Linked DNA regions of Homo sapiens. The main gene of each other region encodes a partner of the protein of the gene in region 2 in a complex. Each region holds a gene or a part of one and is shown on either strand. Other genes may lie near its edges. A codon is read from its position in the direction of its gene.

Region 1 (15,939 bases), on a different chromosome or scaffold from region 2:
AGTAAGCTGGCCAGGTGCGGTGGCTCATGCCTGTAATCCCAGCACTTTGGGAGGCTGAGGTGGGCGGATCACGAGGTCAGGAGATGGAGACCATCCTGGCTAACATGGTGAAACCCCGTCTCTACTAAAAATACCAAAAAAAATTAGCCGGGCATGGTGGCGGGTGCCTATAGCCCCAGCTACTGGGGAGGCTGAGGCAGGAGAATGGCGTGAACCCGGGAGGTGGAGCTTGCAGTGAGCCGAGACTGCGCCACTGCACTCCAGCCTGGGTGACAGAGCGAGACTCCGTCTCAAAAAAAAAAAAAAAAAAAAAGCAATAAACTGACAGGGTACTATCATATAGGCAAATATAAAGCCTAGTGGGGACACAAAAGCAAGGAGAAATTCCCTTTATCTGGGAAGGGCAGGTAATCTTAAATTGAGTAACTAAAGACTGGAATTTACTAGGCAAAAAAAAAAAAAATGGCATTTTAGCAGAAGGATCAAAAGGCGTAGGTTCTATATTCTGTTTACTCAGCCTATCTCTTTTGAAGCAATTATCTTGTTACTAAATAAGGTAAAATTTGTTAAGGTAAAATCTCAAGCTAATAAACAATTTTTCACATTAAGTCATTCTTATTACCTCTTTCTATTTGGTGACACCATTATCTTAAATTTACACTAATACTACCACAGGTTGAGCATCCCTGATCTTAAATTCTGAAGTCAGAAAGGCTCCAAAATCTGAAACTTTTGAGCACTGACATGATACCACAAGTGGGAAATTCCAAACCCGACCTCATGTGAGGGGTCACAGTCAAAATGCAGGCGCACAACACATAGTTTATTCAGTGTCCCCAAGAGAAAAAGACCCTTCCAGCCCCCATCAGCTGCCATGTATCTTTTCCATGCACAGCCAGATTCTCCCATGCAAGCGTGCTCACAAAGGGTGATAAGATGGTTCAGTGTACACACACTTTGTCTCATAAAGTCATTTAAAATATTGTATAAAATTACCTTCAGGTTATATGTATAAGGTGGATATAAAACATAATGAATTTCGTGTTTAGACTTGGATCCCATTCCCAAGATATCTCATTAGTATAAACAAATATTTCAAAATCTAAAAAAACCCCAAAAACTGAAATACTTCTGGTTCCACATATTTCACATAAGAAAGAACCTGTACTGTCATCCATTGTTTCACTCAATCATCTGCTTTTACTTTATTCTTCCAATATTACTTTACTGTCTTCTAATAGTACTTTGTATAACAGATTTCAAATTTTGCTACTTCATCCCAGGACTTTCAAGGCCCATTAGGAGAGCAATCATCCAATACTGCCATTCTTATCTGTCTGCACTCTAGGCCTTCTCTCGCATAAGGATTCCCTTATTTCTAAAATTAATAACTACTTACGTATGAATTCTCTCTTTTATGAAGTCCTTATTTAAAAGACTTTTTTGTTTGGCTTTTTTTTTTTCTCCTTTCCTGTCTCTGTGAACCTATTAAATCTTTCTTTATAATAGAAACCGACTCAGAAAAAAAAAAATCAGGCTGGCGTGGTGGCTCATTCCTGTAATCCCAGCACTTGGGAAGTTGAGCTGGGTGGATCACTTGAGCTCAGGAGTTTGAGACCAGCCTGGGCAACATGGTGAAACTCTGTCTCTACTAAAAATGCAAAAATTAGCCAGGCGTGGTGGTGCATGCCTATAGTCCTAGCTACTCAGGAGGCTGAGGTGGGAGGATTGCTGGAGCCTGGGAAGTGGAGGTTGCAGTGAACTGAGATCTCACCACTGCACTCCAGTCTGGGTGACAGAGTGAGACCCTGTCTCAAAAAAAGAAAGAAAGAAAAAAAACCCTCAACATACAGTATGAGCCCTACTATTCACTATTCCCAAGAATGTAATCTTTTTTTTTTTTTTTTTTTTTTTTGAGACAGAGTCTCACTCTGTCACCCTGGCTGGAGTGCAGTGGCGCAATCTTGGCTCACTGTAACCTCTGGTCCCAGGATCAAGTGATTCTCGTGTCTCAGCCTCCCGAGTAGCTGGGATTACAGGCGTGCACCACCATTCCCTACTAATTTTTGTATTTTTAGTAGAGACGAGGTTTTGCCATGTTGCCAGGCTGGTCTCAGGCTCCTAGCCTCATGTGATCCACCCCCCTGGCCTCCCAAAGAGCCACCTGCACCTGGCCTCAAGAACATAATCTTTTAAAGTGTAAAACAATTCATGACCATCCTTAAGCTATGACAACTCTTTAAGTTAGAAGCAGTTGTAGTCATTGTTTTGTCCGTTGTGTGGAAAATGTGAGGAGTCAATGGGCTAGTGGCATGCATGAATTTAATGCAAACTTTAAAGTGGTGTTGGCTCTACCCATTTTTCAAAAGGAGTTACTTTAAATTTCCAGGAATATTAGAGATTTGGACAAAGGCTAGGTGGGTCAAGACGGCCTTTAAACGCAGGGGCAGTGTTTCTTCACTGAGCTACCCCTTGTAGATGTGGTGTCAAGGCTGGTCATCTGGGAAACTGTGAGTTCTCATTCACGAAAACAGACTGAGGAGAGCTCAGCAAACAAAAATGGTAAGCTGTTACGTTCACCTAATTATGCCTACGTTAATGCCTTCAGTTTGTCCACCGATAAGTCTACAAAAGTCTAAATAATTCCAATCACATTTGATGTGCCTATGTTATAAGTCATTGAATTATTTATATTTCTTTACAATACAATTCAAAACCATGGGATTCAACCCAGAAACATCTTATTTCTTTCATATCAGAATTACTGTTTATCCCGGAAACCCTAATTATTATTATTTTTTAAGTTTAGTGACAGAGTATCGCTATGTTGCCCAGACTGGTCTTGAACTCCTGGCCCCAAGGGATACTCCTACCTCAACCCCCAGAGCAGCTGGGATTACTTGGGTGCAAACCACCATGCCCAGCCAGAAACACTTAATTCTTATGCGTTATTCCGAGATTACAATGCCCTATAGGTTAGAGGTAAATCATACGTCAGTTAAACAAACAAACAAAAAAAGGTTAATAAAAAAAGAAAAAGAAAGGATAAATGGTTAAAGAAAAGTAAATGCCAACAAGTTTTTGAAAGGTTATTTTAAAAAAGGGAAATAAAGGGTAAAAATCACAGAAGGCATCAATAAAGGCAAACGACAAACTTCACAAGAAAGGGCTCAAGAGAACAAATGTTGGCATTTGTATCTTACTACCTTTAGGCTATGAATAACAGTGGCCAGTGTTCTCCCTTAGGTTCCTGGACACTGATACAGGAGCTCTATCAAAATTTAGATATATGAGAAGTCACAGCCAAATAAAATTTGGACCCACAAACATCAAAAATCAGAATGGAAAGAGAAATCAGGCTTATTTTCCCAGAATTACTGTGAACTACACAGTAGAAAGCATGGTGAAGCATGCAGTGATCACGTATCAAGGGTGGCAGGTCAAAGGTAATTACTAACCAGATGGGGAGACATATTTTTAAAGGGAAAAAATGCCTCAATTACAGTTCACTCATTCTTCTACCCAGACCAAGGGTAACTAAGATATCTGTATTTTAAGGCTAATGAGAATAAAGTTTCCTTTAAGGAATTGTTCTGGCAACAAATCGCTTAAGCATCAAAGTATTACATTCTAAAAGGCAGCAGAGAAAATGAACTTGTTAACAGACAGAACCTATCCTACTCCCAAATTAAAGGGCACAAATGTGTGTGTATTTTTAAAAAATGCTTTAAAATAATACAAAACACTTGCATATTAGTCACTTTCTCTATTATGTTGCCAAGTGTGATGTTCTCACAAAAGGAAAATCAGCTCCAATAGCAGAGCAATCAGTAAAATTTCTAGGGTAAGTAGTAGAGAAACAGAAACCTTTCAATTTTTCATCAAAGCAAGGAAAGTTTAAACCTGTAATTTAAATTTAATCTCAACACACATACACAGACAATCAAAGCTTTTCTAGTGGTTTAAAGCATAAGCTAGTGTTTTAACCCAAACATTTAAAAAGAAAAAAGAAATTCAAAGGCACAATTGAAGAGTGCCATGTAACATTCCATATAGTACTCAGTACCACAAGCAGTTCTGGGCTATACAGAGTCAAAGAGGTAAAAGGACTCCAGAATTTAGAAACATCAATTTCCTGACAAGAATCAGTGGAGCACAGTAACTACATTGTGCTTTTGCACTTAGATTACAAAATAAAGGCTCTGCCACACACAGAGTGGAAGGCTAATGTCTGATTCTGTGTATACACATTTAGCTCAAATATATGAGGTGTAAGTGTTGCTTTAAAACCTTAAAGCAAAGGAATCTTTAATGTCCAAATAATTGTGGTAAAAAAAGAATACTTTATATTCTGATTTTGAAGTACATAAATTGTATGTCATAGTTTCCGTAAGAGGCTTAAAAATAAAACATTTGATTGATTCCATGTATATCTTTTTATTTGATTTATTTTTTGAGACAAGAGTCTTGCTCTGTCGCCCAGGCTGGAGTACAATGGCATGATCTCGGCTCACTGCAACCTCCGCCTCCCAGGTTCAAGAAATTCTTCTACTTCAGCCTCCTGAGTAGCGGGGATTACAGGTGCCCGCCACCATGCCTGACTAATTTTTGTATTTTTAGTAGAGATGGGGTTTCACCATGTTGGCCAAGCTGGTCTTGAATTCCCGACCTCAAGTGATGCACCCGCCACGGCCTCCCAGAGTGCTGGGATTACAGGCGTGAGCCACCGGGCCCAGCCAGATTCCATGTCAATCTTAACATGTAAAACACATCAATTGTGATGTTAAATTATTTTAAAACAACATTCAGTAGCTCTACCCAACTGGCCACTTGCTGAATTTCTACCTCTTCAAACCACTGTAGATAGTTCCACCTATTGTCACGCTCAGTTAACTCATAACATAGTTGACAACATACTGCAGCATTTAAATGGCATTTCAGAAACAAGTCACCTCACCATCTTTTAAAGGCATATTTGATCCATTTGCAATTCAAGAAACATATTTGGGCCATGAAGCTGCCCATGGTTATGTCAAACTGAAGGAAACTATAATGGATCATTGTTGATTTCCCAACCATGGAAATCGGGCAGTGCAACCCACCTCACTGCAAACTGACTGTAAATAACTGCTACACATTTCTCTACACAGACTCATCCACACCCACTTATCCCATGACCAGCATCTCTCAGTCCCACACCCAAGGAATGCCTAATCACCTCTCAGGCCCTCGTCCTCCCTGTCACAGAGGAGAGAGCCACAAAACCTGCTTCCAGCTAACCAGAAATTGATCCCTGAACGGGAAACACAATCTACATAACATGGGTCAAGACCAAAAGAATCTTTGGTTGAATGTACATATGTGGGCACACAAAAACACAGGCAGGCACGCACACACTCCATTACCTCTACAACAAGATACAATGATTTTTTTTTTTTTTTTAAAGTTTTGCTAGGTCTGAAGGGGAAGCAAATCCCATTCTTCCATTTTTGCCTGCAATGTTGCCCAAAGGACCTATATCCTGATGACCATTTTGATATGCAAGACAAAACAGGTGGCTCCCAGTGAATGTGACAAGTTTAAGGCCTTGTTCTGAGACATTTTCCTGTCCAGGCCTATCTAACGCCCGACGTCTTTAAGGTTCCAAGAAAGCCTGAACGCACCGCCTGGCCATGCACCTAATAAACCCTTTCAGCCAAACAGTGCGGCCAGCACAGAGGCAGCAAACACCAGTCACGAGAATGATGATGATTTATCTTGCGCGGAGAGGTAGGAGGATATAGTTTACAACCTGGTGACTGAGACGACCTGGAGCCTCAGGAATTGGCTCCTCATCGCTGCCGACAATAACCCGGGGTGGGGATTTGGGGGAGTGCAGCAGGGGAACACTGCTGGATCCAGATTCCCGGCACCGGGCAACAAAGTTCCATAAGGTCGTCAACCCCGGCGATCGGCCTATATTATTCTTCCTGCTCCAAACACCTGTCTTGCTTAGTGGCTCTCTTCTTACACGTTTGGCCAAGGCCCCTTCTGTGCCTGGACCTCCCCAGAACTGCGGGACCCTCAAAGGCCCGGTTGTCGCCCACACCCTTCCCGTCCCCGGTGAGTCTCTCTCCCTCGCCAGAGCAGGCGTGGGGAGCCAGGTTGCGTACCCGGTTCTCCAGCTCCGCAGGGAACTTGGTCTGGAACTGGCAGCGTGTGCCACTGCTGTAGTCTCGCTGAATGAACACCTTTCCGGACACCGGCGCCTGCTGCGGCCTCATGGCGAGGACAGGACACCCCGCGCTGCGGGGTCGGGGGAACACCAACCGCGAGTCAGAGCCCCGGCCTGGACCCGGGACTCTGACCCGCCAGCCCCTCGCCCCCACCCGCCGCCGAAAACAGCCCAAGGCCTCCTCTGCCCCGCTCCCCTTCACCCATGCTGTCACCGCGGGCCTTAGCTGCCGCCTGGCCCAGGCCCCGCGCCCCCCACAACCCGGTTCGGCCCGGGAAACACAAACCCGCCTCCTCTGCCCTCCAGCTGCTGTCGCACCGCCTTCGCCGTCACTTACGTCCTGCCGCAAAAAGCCTCTTCCCCGCCCCTCAGCTCGGCCTCCTACCTCAGGTCTGGGACCCACCCTCTCCTCCGGCCGTAAAGCCACCCTGCCGAAGCTGCGCGCTGTGGGGCTGGGCCGAGGAAGGGAAATGATGTGGGCGGGGCCAGGGCCGACCCCGCCTTCCGCCCGCGCGGGGATTGTTTCCGGAAGGAGAGAGGCGGGGCGAGCTGTGGGGCTGCGGCCGGGGCGAGCTGTGGGGCTGCGGCCGGCGCGAGCGCGCGGGGGTGTGAGGGGCGGAGTTTCCCGGCTGTGTCACTTCCCTAGTGATTGTGGCAGGTGGTTCCCGATCACTGATTGTGAGGGGTCATTTTCGTTCTTGATTGGACGTCGCAGCTTACGTGTGGGTTATGCCACCCAACTCATACACAAAACAAAAAACAAAACATAAAGAAAAAACAACACCCCCTCCCCAAACCCTCAAACACAAACTGCTCATTGTGTTCAGAAGTAGAAAGCAGGCTCCAAGGATGGATCCATTTGGTCCCTAGACTCTTGAGAAAGGGTCAGGAAGTGAGGACGAAGAACCTGCCTGGGCCCCAGCGTTGGGCGCCCCTGCCCCGACTCTTCTTTGGGGGCGGCGTTCCTCTCACCCCCCATTTCCACCCAGCTCCCATCCACATCCCTCAGGTGACCAAGGGGACAAGTGGTTCCGCCCTCGTTGCCCACTGGCCCTTACTTGACTCAGCATTTCTTTGCAAGGCAGCCAAAGAAACCCCACCTTACCCTTGTCTCCTGCTAATACAACCTGTTAGTACCACTGTCTTTTATATATTTAATATAGTTTAAATATCCTGCCTTTTAAATATGAAAAATTCTCTTACTGTATTTTAAAAACAGCTTTTTCGAGATATAAATGGCATACAATAAACCACACATTTAAAGCAGTGGATTTGATAACTTTGGACATATGAATACACCCATAAACCACTGTCACAATCAAGATAGTAAAGCTCCATTGCCCTGAAAAGGTTCCTCCAGCTCCTGTGTAATCTCTCCCTCCTGCCTCTCCCAGACCCCATTTCCCAGGCACTGATCCACCTTCTGTCACTCAACATTAGTTTCATTTCCTTGAATTTTATATAAATTGAATCATATAGTGTGTACCCCCTTTTTTTGCCTGGCTTCTTTCACATAGACTATTTTGAAGTCCATCTGTTGTTGTGTTATCAATAATTCATTTATTTTTGATGCTGGATAGCTATTCCATTGTATGGCCATCCCACAGTTTGTTTATCCATTCATCTGTTGATGGACATTTGGATTGCTTCCAGTTTTGGGATGTTACAAATAAAGCTGCTATGGACATTCATTTGCAAGTCTTTGCATAGGTGTGTAGACCTTAATGCTTTCATTTCTCTTGGGTACATACCTAGGAGTAGAATGGCTAGATTGTACGGTAAAAACACGTTTAACTTTTTGGCAGACTGACAAACTGTTTTCCAAAGTGGTGACACCATTTTGCATTCCCACCAGAGTTCCAGTTGCTCCACATCTTTGCCAAGACTTGGGTAGTAATATCTTCTGCAGCTATAATTTTCATTTTTCCATGACTAATTATTTTGAACATATTTTCCTGTACTTATTTGCCATCCATGTATCTTCTCTGGTGAAGTGTCTATTTAAAACTTTTGCCCATTTTTTTGTTTGTATTTTATTTTCCTGTTGTTGAGGGGTTTTTTGTTTTATTTTGTTTTGATTTACATCTTTATTGGCTGGGCTTAAGGTCAGTTTTAAATTTTTAAGGCACTTTAATTCTTGGATTTTTGTATGTTTAAAGATGTTTTCCTGAGGCCTTTATACTTGCGTGAGAACTTGGCCGGGCTGTTTTTGAGTTTTGAGTTCTTTATACATTCTGGAGAAAAATCCTTTATCAGATATGTGATTTGCATGCATTTTTCACAGTCTGTGATTTGTCTTTTTACTCTCTTAACACGTTAGGGGTTTGAGGGGATTAGGGTGTGGACCTCTTGGGGAGGGCATTTCTGCCTCCCATAGGTATAGAGTGAAACTCTTCCCTCCCCCCGTATGATTATGCAGTTGTTATTCAGTTGTTTACGTACCATTTGTTGAAAAGACTCTCATTTCTTCACTGAATTGCCTTTGTATCTCTGTTGAAAATCAGTGGGGGCCGGGCGCGGTGGCTCACGCCTGTAATCCCAGCACTTTGAGAGGCCGAGGCGGGCGGATCACGAGGTCAGGAGATCGAGATCATTCTGGCTAACACGGTGAAACCCCGTGTCTACTAAAAATACAAAAAATGAGCCGGGCGCCGTGGCGGGCGCCTATAAGTCCCAGCTACTCGAGAGGCTGAGGCAGGAGAATGGGGTGAACTCGGGAGGCGGAGCTTGCAGTGAGCGGAGATAGTGCCACTGCACTCCGGCCTGGGCTAAAGAGCGAGACTCTGTCTCAAAAAAAAAAAAAAAAAAAAAAAGAAAAAGAAAATCAGTGGTGTGTGTGTGTGTGTGTGTGTCTGTCTGTCTGTCCCTCTGTCTGCCTGTTTTGGACTTTCTATTCCGTTTCATGATCTGATCCTGTTTTGAATTAAATGTCTACTAGTGTTTGTCTCCGAAGTTGATGCTTCCTTACTAACTCAGTAAGATCTCCTAGGAGCTGGTTTTCTACATATTTGTTACTAGGGGTTGAGAACACCCTTAAACAGGTAAAACAGTCTCTACCCTCAAAATTTCAGTCTAATGGAGTGAACGAAGAAAACAATTTTCATACATTGTATATTTGGAGTATTTTCCTGCAGCCCTTGGCCACTGAGACTAGGTGGTAAAACAGACTATTATTATTATTTTTTGAGATGGATCTCACTCTGTCGCCCAGGCTGGAGTTCAGTGGCACGATCTCGGCTCACCACAACCTCCGCCTCCTGGGTTCAAGCCATTCTCCTGCCTCAGCCTCCCGAGTAGCTGGAATTACAGGTGCGTGCCACCACACCCAGCTAATTTTTGTATTTTTTTGCGTAGAGACGGGGTTTCACCGTGTTGTCTAGGCTGGTCTTGAACTCCTGACCTCGTGATCCACCCGCCTCGGCCTCCCAAAGTGCTGGGATTACAGGCGTGAGCCACTGCACCCAGCAAACAGATTATTTTTGAATGAGGAAATTTGAGGGCAAATATAACCCAAGGAAAACCCTCTTCATGTTTGGGAAGAGGATCGATCCCAGGTGAAAGAGGAATCAAAGGACGATGAGCTGTATTGTTATCGTCTTCCCTCATCCCTAAACACACTCATGTGTCTAGATTCTAGTTTTGCCATTAAAAGTAAAACAGCAATTACTTTTGTACCAACCAAATAGCTTCTGGCAGTTACCAGCAATCCTTGGAATTCCTTGGCTTATGACAGCATAACTGCAATTTCTGCCTCCATCTTCCCATGGCCTTCTTCCCTGTATCTTCTCTGTGTCTTGAAATATTTCTCTCCTTATAAAGAGCACTATTCATTGGCTTTAGGGCCCACCTAATCCTGTCTGACCATCTTAACCTGATTACATCTGTAAAGACCCTATTTGCAAATAAGGATCTGGGGTTCCCGACTGACATGGATTTTGGGGGACACTATTAAATCTAGTACATCTACCTTGTAGAGGGTGTCAATGTGATATTGTATGTAAAACACTTAGAATGTGTTTGGCACATAACAAATACTGTATGGTACTCTGTTTTTTTTTTAAATTATTACATCATTAGTGACATAGTCAAATGATTTGCTAACATTAACATCATGATAGCAGCAGCTACTATTCATTGGGCTATTAGTGTTAAGGAACTAGGTTGAGCGGTTTATATGCATTACCTCATATAATCTCTACTATATCTATTAATCTAGTAACCCTGGCCAAACAATGATAATACTATATAATACAGATATGATCTATAATCTATGAGCTCACTAGCCCTACACTATTATTTTATTCCTTTCTATGTTTTCAACAATCCTCTGATATTTTAAGGAGCTGAAGTCAAGCTATTAGTCTACAGTATTGACAATTCATTCTTCCTTTTTGAATTTTGAGTCCCTTGTCTATGTTTAGCTTCTTTGAAGCCTACATATTATCTATTTTATTCCTCTGTCCATAATAGATTCTCATGAAATGCTTTGAAAATGAATTCATTCAACAAATATTTGTCGACACTCATAAGGGCTGGTGATGAAAGGATAAAAAAAGTGTGGATTATTTATGTCCTGTGGAAATTCACATTCTTATGGGTGGCCAGGAGGGTGGGAGGAGGGAGATTATAACAGGTTAAAAAACTTTGGGGAAGGGGAGGGGTTTTAACAGAAGGAGAGATAATTGGGCATTCCAGCCTCTCTGTCCAGGGAATGATAAGTATTCATACCTGAAATAAGTAGGATCTGAAGTCTGCTTGGGTGAGGGTCAGGTGGGAGTAGGGATGAGAGATCTTTAATAGAGAAGAGAGATGGTGATAAAAATCTTATATCCTTTTACACACCCCTCTATCGTTTCTTCTCCAAGGTGAATGAACCAGCTTCCTTTATCTTCGATGGTAGGATCTCTATTCCAAAGTTTCTGTCTTTTTGTATGACTCTCAGAACCTTCTGGTGTTTCAAACTAGATACTCTGATAAGAGCGTTAACCTGTGCTGAATATTATCAGTGAAATCCTTTTGTCCCTCCATTTTCAACTCTGTTTTTTTTTCTCTATTGGAACAAAGCTAGCTTTTCAATGCGGGGTCCCATTCTGTATCACCAACTCATGTTCAACTTTTGACCCATCCTGGATCATTTTCGGCCCTGCTTACAAACAGCTTCCCACGCTGCAGATGGCGTCTTCTCTTCAGCTACGATCTCTCCTGGGCTTTGTTCTATTTGTGTCCAACCACTTCCTCCCAGGTCCTTCATAAAGATCTCAATTGGATTGAAAGACGTCCTTATACTAAAGAAATTTTAAACTGTCCTCCTTGGCCATGCTCACGTTGCTCACCGAAGCCATCCCCGTTTCGTCTAACATCGTTTTTTTTGTAGTAGTTGTTTTCTTCTAAAGCTTTGAGGCATGACTGGGGTGGGGGCAGATCAAATCCATTTTCCTCGTTTTCAGTTCTAGTGTCTACCATGCACTGGTACAATGGGCAGAACTCCAAGGATCATTGTCTCTTTGTTTTCATGCATTTGCTGGTAATTTCAAGTCAGCTTCCGTTTTATAAGCTTGTATGTCTTTATTGCATTTTGAGAGAACATTATTGGCATACCTGAATTGACAGCATCTGTTCCTTCCATTTAAATTTCACCATCTAAAACAACGTGTGTCCCAGTTTCAGGAAACAGGCTGAACAGATGCCAGACAGTTGTACTGAATGCTCTCTCCATGAAAGAGCTGCTCTTGCTTACATTTTTGTTTATTTCATTGTGAGGGAGAAGAGCAGATTGAATGATGTCATTAATAAGGGTCCTTTGCCTTTATTGTTTAGGATCCTATTGAAGACCTCTCATATCTGAAGTGGCTGGTGGATAAGAGGGTTTGGAGATTTCAGACTCTTTTCACCAGCACAGTGTAGAATTGCAGAGCTGGAAGCAAGGGTGGTGTCACGGGTGTGTGACTTGTATAGTTGCATAGGGATCTGCACTGAGAAGAGCTCTCTTCTTGGCTTAATGTCCTGCTGTCATCATCTTGAAATTCGTAATACTTTCTGAACATGGGAGTCTGCACTTTAATTTTGCACTGGGCCTCAAAAATCATATAGCTAGTTGTGGATGGAAGAAATATGAGGGCATCTAGTGGGAACACACCATCATTATCTGGGATAGATGATTAACTGTCCATATCTTCTGTGGAACCTGATTTGACGGCAGTTTTGACAAAAGTAAAAAGAAAAACAGGCTGGGTGCGGTGGCTCACGCCTGTAATCCCAGCACTTTGGGGGGCCGAGGCAAGCAGATCACGAAGTCAGGAGTCGGAGACCAGCCTGGCCAACATGGTGAAACCTCGTCTCTACTAAAAATACAAAAATTAGCCCGAGGTAGTGGCATGCCCCTGTAATCCCAGCTACTCGGGAGGCTGAGGCAGGAGAATCACTTGAAACCAGAAGGTGGAAGTTGCAGTGAGCTGAGATCGCGCCACTACACTCCAGCCTGGGCAACAAGAGTGGAACTCGGTCTCAAAAAAAAAAAAAAAAAAAAAAGAAAAGAAAAGAAAAAAAAGACCTCCCTCCTTAGAATTGTACCTCCCTTGAGTTGGAGGGGCCTGGTAAACATCTGGCCCAGGTGTCCTTCTTAGAATCTGGCACTATTTCAACTATCTTTATGACCTCTAGGGATGAAAACTTCACAATTCCCCCTGTGGGCTCTTCCATGTGCACTGCATGTTATGTCTAATTTTCCCATAAAGGACAAATACTCACTAACACAAAGGATTAATTTCTACGGTTGCTTTATAGTAATATGCATTCTAGGGCATTGGAAAAATGGGAAATGAGGCTGTCTGTAAAATCCCCTCCACCCACTGTGGGATAGCATTGTTGAAAAAGGGATGCATACTTTAATCTTTCCTTTTGAGAGAGCAAAATTCCTGTCCTTTTGACATTTGTTACTGGAGATACATTTATAGAGGGAATGAGTTGGACAACTTGAGGCTAGAAAAGAATCAAGATGAGGAATGACTGGAGTAAAGGATCCCAAAAAAGACAAAAGAGAAGATGGGAGTGTAGAGGATGTTGTTTTGAGAAAGGCACATTTGTGGCTGGAGACTCAGAACCCTGCTTAGTATGTTTTAGAAGCCTCTCTGCTTTCCACACTATCCATTCACAAATGTTATTGAATCCTGCTTTGCAGAAAGCACTCCGTGTTCAACTCAACCTCTGTACCCATCACACCTTTTATGGCTGAGTGGTGCTGAACCAAGTGGTATCCATATCGTTTGTAATATGTTTTTCATTCTTTGATATGTCAACCTGAAATAATGGAAAGGATCAGAATCCAGTTTTAAAGAGCGTATTCAAGTGAAAAGTTGGGAATAGCCATCCGGGAAAACCAGACTCCAGAGAAATGGAGCGAGTGCTCTGAAGTTAAAAGTTAAGGTCTTGCTTATACCGACAGAAAACAAATAAATTTGGGAGGATCATAACATTTTCTATACAAGGCTGGTTTATAATCAAATTATAACAATTTGATTAGTTTGTTTTCTATATGGCTTGTTTTCATTTCCTCTCCAGTTTAAAAGAATATATTTAACATTCCATCTTAAGACAATATGATAAAGTCTTTGTGTGAGAGAGGTAAGAGGTAATTTATTTATTTACTTATTTTTTGACTTTTTTATTATTATACTTTAAGTTCTAGGGTACATGTGCACAATGTGCAGGTTTGTTACATATGTATACATGTGCCATGTTGGTGTGCTGCACCCATTAACTCGTCGTTTACATTAGGTATATCTCCTAATGCTATCCCTCCCCACTCCCCCCACTCCATAACAGGCCCCAGTGTGTGATGTTCCCCACCCTGTGTCTAAGTGTTCTCATTGTACAATTCCCACCTATGAGTGAGAACATGCGGTGTTTGGTTTTATGTCCTTGTGATAGTTTGCTGAGAATGATGGTTTCCAGCTTCATCTATGTCCCTACAAAGGACCTGAACTCATTCTTTTTTAGGGCTGCATAGTATTCCATGGTGTATATATGCCACATTTGCTTAATCCAATCTATCATTGCTGGACATTTGGGTTGGTTCCAAGTCTTTGCTATTGTGAATAGTGCCACAATAAACATACGTATGCATGTGTCTTTATAGCAGCATGATTTATAATCCTTTGGGTATATACCCAGTAATGGGATGGCTGGGTCAAATGGTATTTCTAGTTCTAGATCCTTGAGGAATCGCCACAATGTCTTCCACGATGATTGAACTAGTTTACAGTCCCACCAACAGTGTAAAAGTGTTCCTGTTTCTCCACATCCTTTCCAGCACCTGTTGTTTCCTGACTTTTTAATGATTGCCATTCTAAATGATGTGAGATGGTATCTCATTGTGGTTTTGATTTGCATTTCTCTGATGGCCAGTGATGATGAGCATTTTTTCATGTGTCTGTTGGCTGCATAAATGTCTTCTTTTGAGAAGTGTCTGTTCGTATCCTTTGCCCACTTTTGGATGGGGCTGTTTGATTTTTTCTTGTAAATTTGTTTAAGTTCTTTGTAGATTCTGGATATTAGCCCTTTGTCAGATGGGTAGATTGCAAAAATTTTCTCCCATTCTGTAGGTTGCCTGTTCACTCTGATGGTAGTTTCTTTTGCTGTGCAGAAGCTCTTTAGTTTACTTAGATACCATTTGTCGATTTTGGCTTTTGTTGCCATTGCTTTTGGTGTGTTAGTCATGAAGTCCTTGCCCATGCCTATGTCCCGAATGGTATTGTCTAGGTTTTCTTCTAGGGTTTTTATGGTTTTAGGTCTAACATTTAAGTCTTTAATCCATCTTGAATTAATTTTTGTATAAGGTGTAAGGAAGGGATCCAGTTTCAGCTTTCTACATATTGCTAGCCAATTTTCCCAGCACCATTTATTAAATAGGGAATCCTTTCCCCATTTCTTGTTTTTGTCAGTTTTGTCAAAGATCAGATGGTTGTAGATGTGTGGTATTATTTCTGAGGGCTCTGTTCTGTTCCATTGGTCTATATCTCTGTTTTGGTACCAGTACCATGCTGTTTTGGTTACCTTGTAACCAAACTATACTACAAGGCTGTTTTGTAGCCTTGTAGTATAGTTTGAAGTCAGGTAGTGTGATGCCTCCAGCTTTGTTATTTTTGCTTAGGATTGTCTTGGCAATGTGGGCTCTTTTTTTTGATTCCATATGAACTTTAAAGTAGTTTTTTCCAATTCTGTGAAGAAAGTCATTGGTAGCTTGATGGGGATGGCATTGAATCCATAAATTACCTTCAGCAGTATGGTCATTTTCACAATATTGATTCTTCCTATCCATGAGCATGGCCTGTTCTTCCATTTGTGTCCTCTTTTATTTTGTTGAGCAGTGGTTTGTAGTTCTCCTTGAAGAGGTCCTTCACATCTCTTGTAAGTTGGATTCCTAGGTACTTAATTCTCTTTGAAGCAATTGTGAATGGGAGTTCACTCATGATTTGGCTCTCTGTTTGTCTGTTATTGGTGTATAGGAATGCTTGTGATTTTTGCACATTGATTTTGTATCCTGAGACTTTGCTGAAGTTGCTTATCAGCTTAAGGAGATTTTGGGCTGAGACAATGGGGTTTTCTAGATATACAATCATGTCATCTGCAAACAGGGACAATTTGACTTCCTCTTTTCCTAATTGAATATCCTTTATTTCTTTCTCCTGCCTGATTTCCCTGGTCAGAACTTCCAACACTACGTTGAA
Region 2 (15,267 bases):
CATCATGAATTGAAGAATGAAAAGCCATAGTCACAAGTCTGGGAGATGGACTTCAAGAAGAGGAAGCCTGGGGTTTTACACCTTCCAGCAGGTGATGACAAATCCCAAAGCTGTACAGTAGCAGAGAGTAAGATACATGTGACACTATGCCATCTGTTTTTGTAAAAGTAAGACACTGGCACCCTTGCTTGACGAATACCATTTTAAACTGCTGATTTAAGAACATTTGTGACCAGATTACCCCCACCCCAGCAGGTCGAATTATCTACAGGCAATTTAGAAAGGTTTTGAGCCAAGTGGGTCTATGAAAAACAAAATTCAGTTAACGCTTCTGTCAAGTGAAGAGACAGAACAGATTTTGTTATTATCCCACAGCATTTTAGTAGTTTCCTAAAGCTTACTCATTCTGACCAGTCTTAGTAAGCTACTATTGTCAAAGACTGTGCAATCAAACATAGGCTGACCATAAGCAAAGCCCCAATTTTCCTGAGCTTTGGCTGCCTCTGTGATCTGGAACACATCAGGCAGCATGGAAGTTATTATTACTTATTTGGGGGAATAGGAAAGACTGCGGATCAAAAACCACCTAACCATACAAATAAGTAACCAAAAGTGATCAAACTGACTAATTTAGCCGTTCAGAATCCCTTTTGCCAAAAAGTCATAACCTTGAGGTTGATGAAGTAAAACAGGATTCTGCTACTCAGATGCTTTGAGTTTAGGAAGTGCTGGTTTTGATGGTATTTCTAGTCAGTTTTTATTCTGATCTTTTCAGGCACTTCTGCCTGAGACTACTCTGCCCAGCATGAAAAAGCTTCACAGAAACATGTAGCACATCTCATCTCAAGTGGTACCTTCCAAGATGCCACAGTCTCCTGCCCTATTCAGTTGTCTACTTCTTCCTCTTCGTTCTGTTCTTCTTCCAGCCTTTCTTCATCTTCATCATTGTTCTCATCTCTGCTCTTGTCTTGCTCTTCCGAGTCTGTTTTTTTGTCTTTGTCCTTCTTCTTTTGCTCTGAGGCCCCCTTCTTGCCTTTCTGCTCCTGCCTATATGCATCCAGAGCTTCTTTTTTTTTTCTTTTTTTCTTTTATTTATTTATTTATTTATTTATTTATTTATTTATTTATTTTTATTGATCATTCTTGGGTGTTTCTCACAGAGGGGGATTTGGCAGGGTCATAGGACAATAGTGGAGGGAGGGTCAGCAGATAAACAAGTGAACAAAGGTCTCTGGTTTTCCTATGCAGAGGACCCTGCGGCCTTCCGCAGTGTTTGTGTCCCTGGGTACTTGAGATTAGGGAGTGGTGATGACTCTTAACGAGCATGCTGCCTTCAAGCATCTGTTTAACAAAGCACATCTTGCACCACCCTTAATCCATTTAACCCTGAGTGGACACAGCACATGTTTCAGAGAGCACAGGGTTGGGGGTAAGGTCACCGATCAACAGGATCACAAGGCAGAAGAATTTTTCTTAGTACAGAACAAAATGAAAAGTCTCCCGTGTCTACCTCTTTCTACACAGACATGGCAACCATCCGATTTCTCAATCCTTTCCCCGCCTTTACCTCCTTTCTATTCCACAAAACCGCCACTGTCATCATGGCCCGTTCTCAATGAGCTGTTGGGTACACCTCCCAGACGGGGTGGTGGCTGGGCAGAGGGGCTCCTCACTTCCCAGTAGGGGCGGCCGGGCAGAGGCGCCCCTCACCTCCCAGACCGGGCGGCTGGCCGGGTGGGGGGCTGACCCCCCCACCTCCCTCCCGGGCGGGGCGGCTGGCCGGGTGGGGGGCTGACCCCCCCCACCTCCCTCCCGGACGGGGCGGCTGGCCGGGCGGGGGGCTCACACCCCCACCTCCCTCCCGGAAGGGGCGGCTGGCCGGGCGGGGGGGCTGAACCCCCCACCTCCCTCCCGGACAGGGCGGCTGGCCGGGCGGGGGGCTGACCCCCCCACCTCCCTCCCGGACGGGGCGGCTGGCCGGGCGGGGGGGCTGAACCCCCCACCTCCCTCCCGGACGGGGCGGCTGGCCGGGCGGGGGGCTGACCCCCCCATCTCCCTCCTGGACGGGGCGGCTGGCCGGGCAGAGGGGCTGCTCACTTCCCAGTAGGGGCGGCTGGGCAGAGGCGCCCCTCACCTCCCGGACGGGGCGGCTGGCCGGGCAGGGGGCTGACTCCCCCACCTCCCTCCCGGACGGGGCTGCTGGCCGGGCGGGGGGCTCACACCCCCACCTCCCTCCCGGATGGGGCGGCTGGCCGGGCGGGGGGCTGACCCCCCCACCTCCTTCCCAGACGGGGCGGCTGGCCGGGCAGAGGGGCTCCTCACTTCCCAGTAGGGGCAGCCGGGCAGAGGCGCCCCTCACCTCCCGGATGGGGCGGCTGGCCGGGCGGGGGGCTGACCCTCCCCACCTCCCTCCCGGACGGGGCGGCTGGCCTGGCGGGGGCTGACCCCCACCTCCCTCCCGGATGGGGTGGCTGCCGGGCAGAGACGCTCCTCACTTCCCAGATGGGGTGGCTGCCGGGCGGAGGGGCTCCTCACTTCTCATATGGGGCCGTTGCCAGGCGGAGGGTCTCCTCACTTCTCAGACGGGGCGGCTGGGCAGAGACGCTCCTCACCTCCCAGACAGGGTTGCGGCTGGGTAGAGGCGCTCCTCACATCCCAGACGGGGCGGCGGGGCAGAGGCGCTCCCCACATCTCAGACGATGGGCAGCCAGGCAGAGACGCTCCTCACTTCCTAGATGGGATGGCGGCCGGGGAGAGGCGCTCCTCACTTCCTGGATGGGATGGCGGCCGGGCAGAGACGCTCCTCACTTTCCAGACTGGGTAGCCAGGCAGAGGGGCTCCTCACGTCCCAGACGATGGGCGTCCAGGCAGAGACGCTCCTCACTTCCCAGACGGGGTGGCGGCCGGGCAGAGGCTGCAATCTCGGCACTTTGGGAGGCCAAGGCAGGCGGCTGGGAGGTGGAGGTTGTAGCGAGCCGAGATCATGCCACTGCACTCCAGCCTGGGCACCATTGAGCACTGAGTGAACCAGACTCCGTCTGCAATCCCAGCACCTCGGGAGGCCGAGGCTGGCGGATCACTCGCGGTTAGGAGCTGGAGACCAGCCCGGCCAACACAGCGAAACCCCGTCTCCACCAAAAAAATACGAAAACCAGTCAGGCGTGGTGGCGCGCGCCTGCAATCGCAGGCACTCGGCAGGCTGAGGCAGGAGAATCAGGCAGGGAGGCTGCAGTGCGCCGAGATGGCAGCAGTACAGTCCAGCTTTGGCTCGGCATCAGTGGGAGACGGTGGAAAGAGAGGGAGAGGGAGACCGTGGGGAGAGGGAGAGGGAGAGGAGGGAGAGGGAGAGAGAGAGGGGGGAGAGGGAGAGGGAGAGGGGGGAGAGGGAGAGGGAGAGGGGGGAGAGGGAGAGGGAGAGGGAGAGCCAGAGCTGCTTTTTTAAAAATTTTTTTTTATTTTTTATTTTTTCTGAGACGGAGTCTCACTCTGTCACCAGGCTGGAGTGCAGTGGCGCAATCTCGGCTCACTGCAACCTCCGCCTCCTAGATTCAAGTGATTCCCCTGCCTCAGCCTCCCGAGTAGCTGGGACTACAGGTGCGCACCACCACACCTGGCTAATTTTTGTATTTTTAGTAGAGACGGGGTTTCACCATGTTGGCCAGGCTGGTCTCAAACTCCCGGCCCCAAGCAATCCACGCGCCTCGGCCTCCCAAAGTGCTGGGATTACAGGCGTGAGCTAGTGTGCCCGGCCTCAAGAAAATATTTTAATGTAAAATTTCCATTGAAATATTCCCACATATAGGAAGGCAGTGGTCTGCTCTTTTCTGTATGAATGTTATATACCATTATTTTTAATAGTTGCATAGTACTGTACTATGTAGATTTCCAATAGTTAATGGCCTTTTTTGTTTGCTAATTTTTGCAATTACACATACACAATTATGCACATTCACAAACAATTGCAATGTGTGTAGTGAACATCTTTGAACATATATCTTTGAACATTTGTGCGAGTATTTCTAGATAGAAGTAGGATTGTTGGGTCAGTGGTTGTGTAATGCAAAAATGTTAAAAGATACCGCCAAATAGCCCTGCTGAAAGATTTTTACCAGTTTACTCCTCTACCAATGGTATTCGAGAAGCTACAACCCTTTGAGGCAAGATCTCCTTAAGAAGTTGGAGACTCTGCTATGCATAGTTGAGAATTTGACTCTGCACTGTTTTGTATTTATCTTTAATGACTTCATAGGTGCTAGTCTTTTTGCCCCTAGAATATTTTAAGTTCCTTGGAGGCTGGGATCATGTCATATACTTCCTTGGTATTTCCCATATTGCCTAGTACAGGCTGAGCAAACTATGGCTGTTGCTTAATACATACTTCATGATTGATTGATAAACTGGTTCTATTTTTGGGCTGCACAGTGATTGAGGTGAGCTCTTGGAATGAGAGAGCTGGGCAGAGTCAGAGACTAGGGCTGTGCCGGGTCAGTATCAGATGCTGTCACTTGCACATCAAGTTTAGACCGTAATCTGAGAATCTAAATGTATAAAGCACCTACTACAATCCCTGGCTCAGAGGAGGTCCCCAATAAATGATTTCTATTGCTGTTATGATTCTCTTTTAATGAGAGGATTGTCTTAGGGCTACTGTTGAGGGTTCAAGCATAGGACCTAAAGCCATCCCAGGCAGAGTCAGAAATCCACAGTCCAGAGATGAAGTCAAATTGGGAACCAGTGGGAGCAGCCAGGCATCTGAGGCAGAAACAGAGACCTGCGTTTGGGCAGTTCACTTGCATTGTGATGAACACTTTCCTGGCCATCCCAGGCTGTTTTTTGGGGGGCTTTCTGCATGTTTGGCTTTCATGCAAAAGTATCTTTTTTGTTTGTTTTTGAGACGGAGTCTTGCTCTGTCGCCCAGGCTGGAGTGCAGTGGCGCAATCTCAGCCCACTGCAACCTTTGTCTCCCGGGTGGAAGCGATTGTTGTGCCTCAGCCTCCCAAGTAGCTGGGATTATAGGCACCTGCCACCAAGCCCAGCCAATTTTTGTGTTTTTATTAGAGTCGGGGTTTCGCCGTGTTGGTCAGGCTGGTCTTGAACTGCTGACCTCAGGTGATCCACCCGCCTCAGCCCCCCAAAGTTCTGGGATTACAAGCGTGAGCCACCGCGCCTGGCCATGCGAGGACATCTTTAAGGTGCTGCTTAGTTCCCAAGAGAAGCCAACAATCTCAGCACAGGGCTGTGAACATAGGAGGTGCTCAGTGAAAGCAATCCCATTTACCTTTTGCCTGTTGAAACAGATAATGTGGCAGGAATGTCAATGATTTACTTGAGAAGAGGAGGCTAAGGATCAGCCATTCTACTAGAACAAGATTACTATCCAGGCTTTCCCCAGTCCCAGGTGGGGTAGGGGGCTGGGAAACCCAGTCAGATAAGGATTCAATTCAGTGATGAATTTAGAGGTTATGAAAACGTGGTGGTACATGGATGACAAGGACTCTATACAGTGAAGAATGGGTCTCATTTTTTCTACCTCTCTACCCCAGTCAGCAGGATGGCTAAGGGAGGGAGATGGGAGGGGGCAGTAATGGAGATGTCATTATAACATACAGCATTGACTGTGTCTCTCTTCCATGCCAGACAGTTAGCACACAATTCCCTTTATAACTCCATGATATAGGTATTAGCTTTATTTTACAGATGAAGAAATAGTCTCAGAAAGGATAAATTACTTGCCACAGGTTATACAAGCTATTACGTAGCAGAGCCAGGATTTGAACCGAGGCCTGTCTGGCCATAAGGCTTATGTGCTTTCTGAGCTACCTACCATCCTGGATCTTCTATGTCAGTGATAGCAGCCCAGGCCTCAGAGAAACAGATGTTGCTTAAGAATACTAGCTCATCATGCGTGGGTAGGGCATTCCGTGGTTCATTCTTTTGTTCATCAATTCGTTCTACACACACATGCATTTATAGCCAGAAAGCAGAAAGAGATGTGCAAGTCAGAGAGGTGGGGTGGAAAGGGCTGTGTGTGTGGGGAGGAGGGCAAAGTGACATGACAAGTTTGAGGCTACAGAAAATAGAGAATAAAGGAGCTATCATGAGCTCAAAAGCAGGATGGGGGCTGATGCTTTATGTCTGCTCCTGGATGTAGTACTGAATGGGTCTCCGGGTGGTTACAGAAGAGTCTTTGAAGCAACACTAACAGGAAAGCTTCAACCCAGTGGTGGCACTCAGGATCAAACAGCACATTACACCTACACCTACACACGCCTACACACACACACACACACACACAAACACACACACATGAAGAATAAATGTGGAGACAGGTATTTTTAAACAAATACTCCAGAACATACATGATAACACAAGGAGCTGTCTTATAAACTGGAAGGCTATACCTTGATTTTTGTGGTGTTTCTAGTGCTCATCACATGACTATAACCCCTTTTCTTCTCTCTCTTTCTTTCTTTCTTTCTTTCTCTCCCTCTCTCTCTCTCTCTCTCTCTCTTAGATGGAATCTCGCTCTGTCGTCCAGGCTGGAGTGCAGTGGAGCGATCTGGGCTCATTGCAACCTCCGCCTCCCAGATTCAAGTGATTCTCATGCTCAGCCTCCTGAGTAGCTGGGATTACAGGCACCTGCCACCATGCCTGGCTAGAGATAGGGTTTCACCATGTTGGCCAGGCTGGTCTCAAACTCCTGTCCTCAAGTGATCTGCCTGCCTTGGCCTCCCATAGTGCTGGGATTACAGACGTGAGCCACTGTGCCCGGCCTATAACCTCTTTTCAAAAGAGCCAACACTGACTTGGATGTAAAAAGTGGGAAGTCTGTTGAAAAGAGAAGAGAAAAGAATAGGAAAAAACAGTCTCAGTTTATAGTCACAATTTAGTTGTGTGTGTGTATTAAGACTTTAAGGATTATATAAAATGATGTAACTACATAGGAGGAAGTACTATGGGATGTTTGTCCACATAAATTTTCCTTATTTTTCTTTGAGTGTTGAGAATAAATAATAACAGATTGTAATAAAACAAGCCTGACTCACATAGCCACTTAGTCCGAGAGGGAATGTGACCCAGAGCAGGGAGGGACAGAGCTCAGGAATGTGTCACCATGACACATCGATTCCAGGACTCCTCAGGCTTCACCTGCACCTGAGCTATGGACAAAATATGTTTGAGTGCTACAGAGGCTTATTTTTCACTGCTCCATAGTCAGAAGGATGGCAGCTGGGGTGACCATACTATTCCTAAGGGCATCTGATATACATAGGCTTGGAAATCCACAGGGCTGATGAGGTTTAGGGAAGTTCTTCTCCCTCCCATACCAAGTGTGTGCAATACCAGCACCCTCCAGAATTCAAAGCGGGAGAATTGGAGGCAATGATACTGATCGTACACTTCATGAGGAATAAACTGTTGATCATAATCAGCATGAGTGCTAAGGAACAATGGAAGCTTTATAAAGACAAACCTTCCTTTGCAAGTTAATTACAACACATCTCAGAATTACCTAGTGTTTTTTAAATCCTTTAAGAATTTTGAAGGGTGCCATGAAAGTGTCAAATGTAATTATTATGTAGCTTTTTGTTTCATATTGTGTGGGACACATATACTGTAAAGGAAAAATAGTTCTTGACCATGTATGTGGTCCTTCAACTAACATACAACTGCCTTAGGAAGAGCTTTGGCAGTCTCTTCTGTACTAATTCCAAATACCAAATCTCTAAAACTTTGAAATTTTTATCACGCTTAGGAAAACCTAGGCTGGTAATGTAGGCATTCTCCTCCAATCTTCAACCTTTTCTCTTATCTCCTCTTACACTTGGAAAGGAGATGCCACCTTCAACCTTTTCTCATATTTCCTCTTATATTTGGAAGGCAGGAGCCATACTGGTGAAAACAGACCTAGTGTCTTTTAAAGTCACCCTATAGTATAATACTGTGGTTCTCAATTGTTTCCCCCCTTCAATCTCAAACTTTTTTTTTTTTTTTTTTAAGACAGGGTCTCTCTCTGTCGCCCAGGCTGGAGTGCAGTGGCATGATCTTGGCTCACTGCAACCTTCACCTCCTGGGTTCAAGTGATCCTCCTGCCTCAGCCTCCCTGGTAGCTGGGACTACAGGCGAGTCCCACCGCTCCCCGCTAACTTTTGTCTTTCTAGTAGAGACGGGTTTTGCCATGTTGGCCAGGCTGGTCTTGAACTCCTGACCTCAGGTGATCCACCTGCCTCGGCCTCCCAAAGTGCTGGGATTACAGGCGTGAGCCACCGCGCCCAGCCCAATCTCAAACTTTTAATGCATGCAACTCACTCGGATCAGTAGCAGTGGCTCATGGTGGCAGTAATGCAGAGCTGGGTGGCAGAAGGAAAAAATCAATCTGGTTGGTGGGTGGGAATTCTGCCTTGGATTCTCCCCTTAATCATCATAAGCTTTCCAAACCGAATAAAAATTTACAACCTTTTTGGCAATCTTTACTTCATTACCTACCTGGAAGAATTTATGTCCTCAGTGGAGTTTCTTTAACTCCATTAATGTCAATTAGTTGTTTTAGGTGCTGCAAAATGATAATACGTTCTTGGGGACATTTATCCTTTACAACATGCTTTTTATGCTTGTTTGTGTGTTTTGATTTGAAAGACTTAGAGATGCAGGCTAGGGTGACTGGGACAGATATGGGGTCCCTGGCTACTGAATGAGACTTGGGAGGCAGATGACTTGTTTTTATGCCGATAAAGAGTAAAATCTCAAGTTGCGGTTGATTTTAAAATGCAAGCAGGGCTGGAGAGGCCCATGGCAGACCTAGTTTGGGGTGAGCACCCGGATCTGTGAGCTAGTGTTGCTTCAGCATCTCACTGTGTGTGTGTGTGCGCGCGCGTGTGTGTGTGTGCGCGCGCGCGCGCGTGTGTGTAGGCTGGTTCCACCCTTTGCTGTCCCATCGGCACTACCCTTAACCTCCGTCTCTGCGTAACTATATTAATAGAAGGCAACACTTCACATACTGGCGCTCAGACCCCAAAGAGAGGCTGGCAGTGGCTTGGCAGGTGGGCATGCAGCAGGGAGATGGGTGGAGGAGTGGGCGGAGGCATCGTCGAGTGGCGTTAGGCAAAACCAATGGCAGTTCGGGATAGGGGCGGCCGGGGCGGAGGCGCCGAGGCCGATCGGCCAATAGAGGGCGAGCAACTACTGGAGCGACCTGGTGACGTGAGGAGCGTTCCATTTGGCCAGTGGTGGGCGGTTGCCACAGCTGGTTTAGGGCCCCGACCACTGGGGCCCCTTGTCAGGAGGAGACAGCCTCCCGGCCCGGGGAGGACAAGTCGCTGCCACCTTTGGCTGCCGACGTGATTCCCTGGGACGGTCCGTTTCCTGCCGTCAGCTGCCGGCCGAGTTGGGTCTCCGTGGTTCAGGTAACGAGGGGTGGGGGCGGGGGTCTCCTGGGCTCGGCTGCAGGGTGGGCTGCCTCCCCTTCCGCGGCGCCTGGAGGCGGGGACGTCGGCACCGCCCTTCTCAACTCGGCAGCCGCCGAGCCCCTGGCCCGGGGTGACTACACGTGGCGGGGCGTGTGTGAGTGTGTACGAGCGTGTGGCTGCGTGTGCGTGTGGATGTGGCGCGCGTCCCAACCTGCCTGGGGCGGTGGTCCGCGGCGTGGCGGAGTCAGGGCGGGCCTCGAGAGGCCGCGCCCGCGGCTCGGCCCCGGACTCCGGCCTCCGGCCTCCGGCCCCCCGCTGGGGAGCCGGTCGCTGCTTCCCGACGGATTTTGATCTTTGTTCTTCCAGGCCGGCTCCCCCTTCCTGGTCTCCCTTCTCCCGCTGGGCCGGTTTATCGGGAGGAGATTGTCTTCCAGGTTAGTTTTACACAAAGGACGGGTTCTCTGCACCTCTGGGCCCCCCTCCCCTTCCCCGAACCTTCTACCTTCTCGTTTCCCTGCTCCGCTCCTAGGCTGTTTTTGGACCTTTGCCCTCTCCAGCCCGCGAGTTGGCTGTTTCTCCCTCCGTCCGTCGGGCTGCAGGCTTCCGCCTCAGTCCTGCCAGCGTGGGGCATGTGGTGTCGGTAAATAGAGGCCACAACACCACACCTGAGCGGAGGAGAAGGGTAGCAGAGGCTGAGAAACTCTGGGCCTGGGAATTCAGGATGCTGAGTAGAGATGGTACTTAGGACATGTCCCAGAAAGCGCCCTTGTGACTTTTCTTAGCTGCTGCCATTCCCCACCCCCCAACCAGCCATCAGCAGTCACCAACCATTCCAGAATCTCTCCTGCTTAAGTCAGCCTTTCACCTACAGGTCTCTGATGTGGTTTCATTAAGATTCTCACAAATGTTAGGCTAGACCAGCCAGATTGTTTCATTTCCCGGACTCAGGAAGTTGCAGAGGGTTTGATGAGGGGAAATCTGTTTTGTGTAAATACAATGCACGTATGTGCACAGAGCGTCCAGAACCTCCTGGCCCTGCCAGAGGGTGACTTGTTCCCTGCTGTGATTCATATTCGAGTGGCTAATTGAAGAAAGAAGGTGAAGTGGAGGAAGGGAGGGAGGTTTTATAAGGACAGAAACTCTACTATTATTTTTAGAGTCCTTTTAATGATGTTGAAAGAACACTGTGGCATAGTGGAACATGCCCTTGACTGGAAGTTAGCAGTATCAGCATTGCTGCTGTGTGGTCCTGGATAAGTTATTTCCTCTCTCTGGTCCTCAGTTTACTCATTTACAAAACAAAGTATTAATAATTGGCACGATCACCTATAAAATCCTCTCTAGTTCCAAGGTTCTGTGATGATCAGATCATCAGCATTAGATTGGAAGCATAGAGGCTTATTTAAGAAGAAATACTAGCCCCTTTCCTTTTTTGAGAACCTTTTATCATACCTTCTTTTAGAGAACAAACACGAATTGGAAATAAACTTTTCCCACTTCCCCGTCCCCACCCCTTCAGTCAGTTTTCAACTTTCTGTCTCTGGGAAAGGAGGGTTGAACTGTATTTTCTTATTATTGCCTCATTTTTTTTTCTTTTTCTGCTTTTTCTTAGGGCTAGCAATTGGACTTTTGATGATGTTTGACCCAGCGGCAGGAATAGCAGGCAACGTGATTTCAAAGCTGGGCTCAGCCTCTGTTTCTTCTCTCGTGTAATCGCAAAACCCATTTTGGAGCAGGAATTCCAATCATGTCTGTGATGGTGGTGAGAAAGAAGGTGACACGGAAATGGGAGAAACTCCCAGGCAGGAACACCTTTTGCTGTGATGGCCGCGTCATGATGGCCCGGCAAAAGGGCATTTTCTACCTGACCCTTTTCCTCATCCTGGGGACATGTACACTCTTCTTCGCCTTTGAGTGAGTTTCGGTTGAGTAGAGTTACCTGATTATGGTTACTTTGGGTCCAGGGGAAGAACCTGCTTTCTGGGGAGTTTGGGGCTGGTCCTTGGATGACTTTAACGTCCTCTTGAGCGATGTCTGTAGAGATGCCAGCTGAATTCATTGCTTCGTGGTCATCACAGAGTATGTACTTCCTAAAAAGACCAATACCTTTGATACCAATTTTGTAGTACTGATTTGGGGCTGTCCTTGATAGACTTGGGAAATAAGAAAGTTTGTCTTAATTACTCACCTCTCCCTTTTAGTGGTCTCCTTAGAAGCTAAATGACAGATGGCCTCCCCTGCACACAAACCTGAGGGCACCCCTCATTGTTACATTACTCAGCAATCCTCACCTATTTTGTTATTCTGGGTCCTGTTTCCTTAAGGCTCAGCTCTCAGCTAGCTGGTACAGTGAAAAGCCAACTGAGTTGGGAACCTACAGATTAGTTCCAGCCTCAGCTGGACCACATACTAGTTGTGTGCGTGGCACATACGTGCTTATTAGAAGTGAGTTGCTCTTTCCCTCAAAATCACTCAACGTAAACAGCTCTATATTCTGTGTATGTCTGGTACCAGCCTTGGAGTGATTTTTTTTCTGTGGTGTAATACCTCGTACTCGAGCCACTGTTTGAAGTCTGTGTAGGTCTCGTCTCTAGGGGAGGTGGCCGGCTGGATTCTAGGGCACTGTGGCGTGTCTCCTGGGTGTGCTGAGAATGCTCTACACTCTAGGGATGGGAGCATTGCTAATTGTTTTGGGATTACTGTGAGGAGGCCTTTGAGAGCCAAGAGGTGTGTGTGTGGACTGTAAGCCACACCTGAGGTGAGCGTGCTATGGTGTATGTACATGGGTGACCTGGAAATGGAGGGCTTATGCTGGGGTGTGTCCATGGGAGGTAGGAGGGGGCACCTTGGCCAGCCTAGTGGGGAAGTAAAATGAGCTCTGGTCCCTTGGGGCTCATTTTTGTCCTTCTGTGAGGGCTTCAGGCTTTCCCAGTGCACCCAGAGTGATTTTTGGGCTGCTTTGCCAGACTTTTGGGTGGTTGCAGCTGGCTTGAGTAACAGCAGGGGGAGGGAGATCCAGTTTATAACGGGGCTGGGAAAGTAAGGTCAGAGGAACTCTTTGTTAAAGGTCCTTTTGCTGCTGCCGCCGCTACTGCTGACTTTGTGAAGTGTTTAGTGAAGTCAGGCAGGTTGCTGAAGGCTTCTTATTTGCTTTCCAGTTTGAGTTTCCTGAATGAGTGTGTGTGTGTGCATATGTGCACGCACGTGCTTGTGTGTGGTACCAGTGAGCATGTGTAGTCAGGCAGGCATAAGCCCCTAGCATTAAAAATTGTTTTTCCTTCTCCTCACCCTTCTCTCCAAGTATTCCTTGCCTCATTCCTGTCCTGCTTCTTCTTGGAAGTGCAAAGCTGACATCTGTTCTTTATCATTCTTCCTCTCTTTTTCTCTTTTTGTCCCCACCCCCACCTCCAGGTTAAATTTTTATTACAACTATTCCAAACAGAGATGAGCCTTGTTCCCAGGCTTTGAGTTAGTTGGTAGTTCTGGGCCCAGGAAACCTCTGGTTTGACTGGCCAGGGGTACTTGAAATTTGGAGGTATTGCCATTTGTCCCCTTTTGTATCTGGGAGCCAGCAGAAGAATCTGACTGGAATCTGTTCCACTGAGGCCCCTGCAGGCCTCTGAAGAAAACCGCTGGTGGGATGAAGCTTCTAATTAGCCAAGTTACCATTTGACAGAGGCAGGTTGAGTTTTCTACCATGATGACTTCCCCCCGCCCCAGGTTATTTCTTGCATTTTGAAGGGTGAGGTTATTTGTAAAACTTACTTGAGTACCAGCTGTCTGTGTGAAAGACTAAATATTTTTGAAGATAGGGCTGGAGGAGGGAGTAGTGGGAAGAAGAGGGGAGAAGGAAGTAAATGTGTTAGCAGAGGAGTGGAGGGGGGAGGTGGAAATGTGACCACAGAGGAGAGGACCCTGGTGATGAATACTTTGTACATGTGTGGATGTGCGTGCTTGTGTATGTGTGTGTGTGTCTGTCATATACAGACACATAGACACTTTAGGTGGTGGCTGCCTTGTGCCTAGCCAGTGACAGGTTGTACAAGGTACACCAGCATGCCTCTGAGGAATGAAATCTCCTTCTGGTCGGCCTTTTTCTTTGGCATCTATAATTTCCTGTCCACCACATAGTGGGGGCAGGGTTTGGGGAGCAGAATGTGGGCTGCTTTGTTAGTATTAGGACTTAGCGCAGTGGCTCATGCCTGTAATCCCAGCACTTGGGGAGGCCGAGGCAGGCAGATCACTTGAGGTCAGGAGTTCGAGACCAGCCTGGCCAACATGGTAAAACCCCCGTCTCTACTAAAAATACAAAAATTAGCCCCGTGTGGCTGTTGTGCGCCTGTAGTCCCAGCTACTCGGAAGGCTGAGGCAGGAGAATCCCTTGCACCTGGGAGGCGGAGGTTGCAGTGAGCTGAGATCTTAGCCTGGATGACAGAGTGAGACTCTGTCTTAAAAAAAAAAAAAAAAAAGAACTTAGTGAGGCCTCAGGAAATCAGTTGATCTAGCCCCCTGCCTTCAGGCAGGTGAGGGTGTCTGAATAGACAAATGGTGATCTATTTTCATTCTTACATTGTCTAGGAGTAGAGACTCCACATCCTCTGGCTGCTGTATTTTTACCTTGTGGGAAGATAGTCCAAATCTTGAGGCACATCTGGAGCTGCATTTTAGTAGCAGGGTCCTGCTTGCAGCAGGTGCTTAGGAACAAGTGTGAGTTGATTTATAGCTGCCTGCAGCACAGCTCTGGGCCAGCCAGATGGCTTGAGAAGTCTGGTCAGGCATGTGGGTGCCCCTTAATGAAAAACGCATAATGTTAGCAGTGCTGGCAGATGTCCTTTTATTTTTGGATTATGCCTTTACATATCTTCTAGAAGACTTTTCAAATGAGTGACCTGTAATTTTCAGTGGACACATAGTAGATTGAATACATAAAACAAAAAAAGTTGTCCATCCTGGGGCCAGTTAGCTCTGTATTGTTAGAGTGTTTCTTTTTTTTTTTAATTATTTTTTATTTTTTATTTATTTTTTGAGACAGGGCCTTGCCCCATCACCCAGGCTGGAGTGCAGTGGCATGATCTCTGCTTTTGCAACCTCTGCCTCCCGGGTTCAAGCACTTCTCCTGCCTCAGCCTCCCGAGTAGCTGGGATTACAGACACCTGCCAAATACAAATAATTTTTGTATTTTCAGTAGAGACAGGGTTTCACCATGTTGGCCAGGCTTGTCTCGAACTCCTGACCTCAAGTTATCCACCTGCCTCAGCCTCCCCAAGTGCTGGGATTACAGGCATGAGCCACTGCGCCCGGCCTGTTAGAGGTGTTTCTGAAGAAGCCGGGGGGTCTCTCTCGGGCCGCTGTCACCGAGTAGAAATTTGGCCAAATATTCACTAAGCCTCTTGCAACTCCAAGAACCTGAAATTCTGTATAACTCTGTGTCTGTCTGGAAGACTCAAATACACACAAAAGGAGATTATAGATTACCAGTAGGTTGCTATATTTAAATATAATTGTATTCATGGTAAACGTATTTAAGTTTAAAAGCAGAGTGAAAAATGGTATAATGCTTAAAGAAAAAGGATTTTCTAATTAATTCTTAGGGTGAGGTATTTAAGAAATGTGAGTGTGTATTGCTAGTTTCAGCTTTGAGCACATGAACAATTTTCAGTTCTTTCTGCTTAAGCTCTATCCAGCTTGTGCGATGAACACATAGCTACCAGCTTGGCCTGAAGTGTTAGGACACTGTAGCAGAATGCCACTGACAACCTAGGAGACATCCAGCTACTGAAAGGCTATCGTGGTATTCAGTCAAATTCAACTTCCTGATAAAGTGTGATCCTGGAGAAAGGAACAAGTGCACTGTCTCCTG

What was found.
Region 1: the proteins of ZDHHC9 (region 2) and GOLGA7 are in contact, whole or in part, in a cryo-EM structure (PDB 8HF3), measured with the Homo sapiens proteins. Residues at the interface, in NP_001008223.1 of Homo sapiens: Phe78, Ala81, Arg85, Ile94, Pro95, Leu98, Asp100, Glu101, Phe104, Ile105, Phe129, Gln130, Ile131, Asn132, Ile146, Pro149, Pro150, Arg182, Tyr183, Leu186, Tyr274, Lys281, Cys284, Glu285, Leu287, Cys288, Gly289, Pro290, Leu291, Pro292; in NP_001002296.1 of Homo sapiens: Lys11 (codon at 6,233), Phe13 (codon at 6,227), Gln15 (codon at 6,221), Tyr18 (codon at 6,212), Ser19 (codon at 6,209), Ser20 (codon at 6,206), Gly21 (codon at 6,203), Thr22 (codon at 6,200), Ala57, Glu58, Leu60, Ser64, Tyr65, Gly68, Cys72, Ala75, Tyr76, Thr77, Phe79, Leu80, Tyr86, Glu87, Leu90, Ile116, Arg118, Gly119, Arg121, Val122.

The regions. Positions count from the first base shown.
Region 1 is NC_000008.11:41,481,179-41,497,117, reverse strand, and holds the start of GOLGA7 (golgin subfamily A member 7), read right to left. Parts: upstream 6,537-15,939; 5' UTR 6,264-6,536; coding exon 6,153-6,263; intron 1-6,152. UniProt on the Homo sapiens protein: May be involved in protein transport from Golgi to cell surface. The ZDHHC9-GOLGA7 complex is a palmitoyltransferase specific for HRAS and NRAS.
Region 2 is NC_000023.11:129,837,833-129,853,099, reverse strand, and holds the start of ZDHHC9 (palmitoyltransferase ZDHHC9), read left to right. Parts: upstream 1-9,213; 5' UTR 9,214-9,404; intron 9,405-9,500; exon of another isoform or gene 9,501-9,773; 5' UTR 9,774-9,841; intron 9,842-11,019; 5' UTR 11,020-11,154; coding exon 11,155-11,321; intron 11,322-15,267. UniProt on the Homo sapiens protein: Palmitoyltransferase that catalyzes the addition of palmitate onto various protein substrates, such as ADRB2, GSDMD, HRAS, NRAS and CGAS. The ZDHHC9-GOLGA7 complex is a palmitoyltransferase specific for HRAS and NRAS.